Linked DNA regions of Homo sapiens: region 1 is linked to region 2. The links come from fine-mapping of genetic effects on gene expression. A gene starts in region 2. The other region holds a variant in brackets. All regions are shown on one strand. Distances are from middle to middle. Region 1 overlaps GRIK5 (glutamate ionotropic receptor kainate type subunit 5). Region 2 holds the start of ZNF574 (zinc finger protein 574).

Region 1 (2,500 bases), 37 kb before region 2:
CCCAGGGTGTAGGTGGCTGATGGCTCTCAGCTCTGTCAGTAGAAGAGCGTCCCCTCACCCAAAGTCCTGACTCTCCCCAAGAGCAGCCCACGTCCAGTGACATATCAGTGGGTGCTTAAAGGCCTGGCACCCTTACCACAGGGGGAGGTCCTTGACGGCCAGCTCAGCTCCAGAGCTGCCTGTGGGACAGCTAAGGCCCAGTTGTGACTGCAGCGCAGCTCAACTCCTCTGCCCAAGCCTGCTTCCTTCCCTCCTGCACAGGGCAGGTTTCCAGGGGCACGCCATCACACCTCCTGCCTCTACATCTCCATCTCAGAGTCAGCTTCCTGGGACCCTGACCTAAGATCTTCTTTGCCCTTGAAGGCTAAGCTTTATCCTGAGGGCCTCAGGGGCTTCAGTTAAAGCATACAAGTGACAGATCAGACTCACACTGTAGAAAGGTTCTATTGGAGGACAAGCTGGGGAGTGGAGAGACTAGAAGCCAGGAGGCCAGTAAGGAGGCTGATGAGAGGGGTGGGACCTGAATTCACACCATGGCAGTGATGGCAGGGAGAAGGCCAATGTCAGCCATGGCCACTGGGTGGAAAAAATGGGTCATAATTCAAGACAGGCCAAGGAGACCTGTGCCTGGCCCAGGGGTGACTGGCAGGATGGTGGTGCCCCAGGCTGTCTTCCATCTGGAAGTCACTCACCAGCTCTGGGCCACCCTGATGGGGTGCCCACCTTGGCTCTCCTGGTCACTAGCCATGGGCCTGGACATGAAACCTTGATGCCTCACTGTACATTTGAGAAAACGGGGCTAATACCAGTCCCTCTCTCACTGGGTGGCCATGAGGAGTCAAGGATGGAGACAAGTCAGAAAGCTCAGACAAGGGCCTGGCACAGCGTGCCACTCCATCAGTGTACTCCGAGCTTCCCAAGTTCCCAGCTGGAGGGCTGGAAAGGGCACGGGCCTTAAGTCAGACACACCTGGCTGCAGCCCTGTGCACTGGGGACTCCAGATCTCACACTGGGCAGTGATCCTCAGGCCATGAAGGACTGCTATGAAAATTATGTTAAGTAACACTTGAAAAGTTCCTCGCACATGGTGTGAAATCAACAAATGACAGCTGCTGCTGTTGTGATGACGGTGGTGACTATTCCTGTGCAGCT[C/T]GGCACACTCGGCTATCCCACAGCAGGGCAAGGCCAAACTCCGCCTATCCTTCACGCTCCAGCTCCTCCTCCAGTGTTCTCCCTGTAAATGTCATTGCCATCACCCAGATGCCCAAGCCAGACACAGGAGGAATGCTCTCCCTCCTGTCCTCTCCTGCATCCCCCACCCTAGGCAGTCACCAAGCCCTGGTGCTCTTTAGCCCTTCCCCTAGTCTCTAGCTCTGACGTTCTCCCGCCTGAGGCCCACCAGCTCATTCCTTATCTCCTCACTGGTCTTCCTGTTACCACTGCTTCCCCCAACCCCAGGGCCAATTCACTTGAGCCAGATCAAAACCCTTCAAGGGTGGCCGGGCATGGTGGCTCATGCCTGTAATCCCAGCACTCTGGGAGGCTGAGGCAGGTGGATCACCTGAGTTCAGGAGTTTGAGACCAGCCTGGCCAACATGGCGAAACCCATCTCTACTAAAAATACAAAAATTAGCCAGGTGTGGTGGCATGCGCCTGTAGTCCCAGCTACTCAGGAGGCTGAGGCAGGAGAATCATTTGAACCCACGAGGCAGAGGTTGCAGTGAGCCAAGATCACCCCATGGCACTCCAGCCTGCCTGGGCAGCAGAGCCAGAGTCCGTCTCAAAACAAAAACAAAAACAAAACTCTTCAAGGGCATCCCATGGGCTTTCTGCTGAGGCCCAAACCCTTTAGCCCACTCAGTAAGAGCACATCGGGCTTGTTCACCATGGTATCCCCAGGGTATAGCACAGGGCTTGGTATACAGTAGGCACTCAACAAACATTGGCTGAATGGAAAATGGATGAACACACAAATCTATGTATGTGCTGGCCATGCTGGTATGAATAATAACAATAATAAAAATAGTATAATCCCAGCACTTTGGAAGGCTGAGGTGGGAGGATTGCTTAAGCCCAGGAGTTCAAGACCAGCCTAGGCAACAGGGCCAGACCCCATCTCTACAAAAAACACAAAAATTACCTAGGCATTATGGCATATGCCTATAGTCCCAGCAACTCGGGAGGCTGAGGTGGGAGGATCGCTTGAGCCCAGGAGGTGGAGGCTGCAGTGAGCTGTGATTGCACTACTGCGCTCCAGCCTGGGCAACAGAGAGAGACCCAGTCTCAAAGGAAAAAAAAAAAAGGACACACGCATACAGCACCCACTATGCACCAGGCCCTGTTCTAAGTTCTTCACTGCATGTTGTTCTTCAAAACAACCCTATGTGCTAAAGGGCTGTTATTCCCCAATTTTACAGTTGAACAAACTACAACCTAAAGAAATGTTAAGCACTTGCCCAAAGCCACACAACCAGTGCACAGCAGAGCTAAGCTTTAAACA
Region 2 (3,008 bases):
GCTGTTATTAGCCCCATTTCACAGATTAGAAACTTAGGCTCAGGACAGTTGACTTGCCCTAGAACCAGGATTCCAATCCGGGAATCTGTTTTAACTATACATGCCTGGTGTTAGGGAATTTAATCCATGAGAAGGTTAGGACATCTAGTGACCAAATGGCCATAGAATTGGCCCCGGGTCTCACTGTGAGACGCATCCCATAGTGGCTTCAGGTAAGTAAATAAATAACACAATTCTGAGAGTCAGTTTCCTCATCCGATAAGTTGAAATTCCTCTGTGTTTGGGTTCAAGGAGTAGGTCTGGAAATGTTTCTTTTCTTCTTTCAGATGGAGTCTCGCTCTGTCGCCCAGGCGGGAGTGCAGTGGCGTGATCTCGGCTCACTGCAACCTCGGCCTCCTGGGTGCAATCAAATCTCGAGCCTCAGCCTCCCGAGTTGCTGGGGTTACAGGCACGAGCCACCACGCCCAGCTAATGTTTTGTATTTTTAGTAAAGATGGTAGTTTCACCAGGTTGGCCAGGTGGGTCTCGAATGCCTGACTTCAAGTGAACCCGCCTCAGCGTCCCAAAATGTTGGGATTGCAGGCGTGAGCCACCACGCCCAGCCTGGAAACGTTTCTAACAGTACTGGGGCAACTCCCTCCCAAGGCCCTGAGGGGCGCAGGAACGAGGTGAGTAGGAATGGCCAGAGCCCCTTGGACACATGGGGCCCCAATCTCGAGGTGTAAGGGTCAGAGTCACCCCGGAAGGAGGTGGAGTGGAGTCCGCCCGTTACCGGCTCACTTCCTTCAGGCTCTCACCCCGATTGTCCTTCAGGTCCTCTACCCACCACACTCCCTATTTCTTCCAATGAAATTGTCCCTGCTTCTTTTTCTCCATATCCTCGCTCTCCTTGCTTCCCCTATGACATTTCTCCTCTCTCCACCTCCCAAAAGTCCCCTCGGTCTTTTCTCTGTTTCTTCCTGTTGCCTTCATTCCCCTCCTTTTAATAAAGTGAGTCTGGAACCTTGGTTTCCCTTTTCTCTCTCCATGTGACTGGTGCTGCATGCAGTTTGCCCTCTCCCCATCGCGCTAAGTGGTTTCACTTTCTCCCTCTGACCCTCGGGGAAACCACAAAGGTTCCCGTGCCTCCATTCCCCCGCTCCAGCCCTCAAGGTGCCGCGTGCCTCAATTTCCCAGGCTCTTTTCCTCCCTCTCCCTGTCCCCAACGCTGACTCCCTCACGGCGTCCCCAAAATGGCGCCCGCGGCCGCGCTCCGCCGCCTAACGTCATCGCGCCGCCCTCCGCTCAGAGTTCCCCTCTGGAGCCGTCGGAGGCGGAGTCGAGGAGGAGGAGGAGCATCCTCTAAGGAGGATTAAAGGGGCGGGCACTATCCACCCGAGGGCTGACCGGTGAGGGAACGACGCTAAAGGATTGGTTGGGCGCTGCGGGGAATCTCGACGCTCCTCACTATTGGCCCAAGCCTCAGAGACATGAACGTCGATTGGCCGAACGGCAGGGCCCGAGCGGGCAATGATTGGTTGCGTCCGGCCGTCCGTGCGGCGGCCGAGGAGGAAGGTGGGAGGGGCGTTGCTGAGGGTAGCTGGGGGCGAGAGCGAGGCTACGGAGCAGGCGAGAGGCGACGGCGAGAGCTAGAGCGGGCGCAGCGTTAGGGTGGCCGTGCAAGGGGAGCCGTGGCCCGGGCCCGGGGCGTGCGAGACGGCGGAAGCAGGTGAGCGCGAGCGGGCGCGCAGAGGCCGGCCGGGCTGCGCTCCCTGCCGCCGCGGCCTCCTCTTGCCAGGTCGCCTGCGCACTGAGGGCCTGAGGGGGTGCGCGCCGGGCAGTTAGGGCGGAGCGGCACCAACGGCCGACCCGGCGCGCGGGCAGCCGGGCGGGGGCCGGGCTGGAGCGGCGGGTGGGGAAGGGGCCTGGAGTCGCGTGCGGGGCTGAGTGAGGAGGGGCGGGGCTCGGGCTGAGGCTTTGGTGGGGCACCTGGGCGGGAAGGGGAGGCCTCAGAGCTGTCCCAAGAGGGCTCCGCGGCTCCCCAGGGTTTGGGGTAAAGGACTTGGTGGTGTGGCAAGTCCAGGACGAAGGGGCTGGGCCGGTTAGACGGCACGTGGGTGCCCAGTTAGGGGCTTAGGGCGTGAGAAAGATAATTAAGTTAATGCAGGGGAAAAATATCTAGTTCTTCCTGGAAAGAATTGGGGCGGTGAGAGGGGTTTTGGTGTGAAGACATTAGGAAATCGATATCCCCAAGGGAACGGTTTAGAGCTAAGGAGGGGTCCAGTTGTAATGGATGGGGTTAAATTAATGTGAAGAGGCCTTAAACCAATGTGTCAGGAGGTTGGGTACCCTTGGAATGCGTGGAAAGGAGTCTTTGTACAAAGAAGGATTAAGTGTATTTTAAAAGGGTGTCTGGGTGTCCCTAGAATGAGCTGGGGAAGGTAGTCTTTTTTAAGTACAGGTAATTAGGCCAAGGTGAAGATGGGATTTGGTTATTGGAAGGGGAGGAAGTAGGGTGGGAGAGATCTGTGTGCTAAAGTGAGGGGTGCCTGGGAATTCCTGGAATGAGACTGAGAGGTTGCTAAGACGCTGGGGGGTCTGAGTACCCCCAGAATAGGAGGCTGGTGAGAGGGGCTTGAGTGTGAGGAAGAGGGGTCTGTGCTGGATTAAGGTGGTGATGGAGGTTCTGTATGAGAATAGGAGGTCCGGGTATCCCTAAAGGGGGTTTGGGCAGCACGAGGGGTGTGTGTAAAAGGAGCTTAAGCCATTGTGAAAGATGGGTGTGTGGATCTTTACACAAAGAAGAGGAGTTATGTTGCTACGAAGAGGAGGGTCTGAGCATCCCTAGAATGGGTTAGGGTGGGTTGGGTCTTCTAGCAAATTAAAAAAGATTAGGTTAATAATGTGGAGGAGGATCTGGATATTCCTGAGATGGATTTGAGGGGGGGCTCTGTTTGCAAGAGAGGCATAGGTTGATATAAAATGAGGGTATGGGCATCCCTGAATGAGTGGCTGTGTATGAACAGGAA

What was found. PIP is the estimated chance that this variant, and not a neighbour inherited with it, causes the effect.
Region 1: its variant is fine-mapped to the expression of ZNF574 in skeletal muscle (GTEx, PIP above 0.99).

Annotation. Positions count from the first base shown.
Region 1 is chr19:42,037,695-42,040,194 of GRCh38, forward strand. All of the region lies in intron 12 of GRIK5 (glutamate ionotropic receptor kainate type subunit 5), which reads right to left. Among named protein-coding and RNA genes, the nearest start is that of GRIK5, 31 kb to the right of the region's middle. The variant C/T (reference allele first, on the strand shown) is at 1,153.
Region 2 is chr19:42,074,579-42,077,586 of GRCh38, forward strand. ZNF574 (zinc finger protein 574) reads left to right here and starts at 1,588. Exons shown (of 2, transcript NM_022752.6): 1 at 1,588-1,708. RefSeq lists enhancers at 748-817, 898-947, 1,168-1,287 and silencers at 1,658-1,917, 1,928-2,007.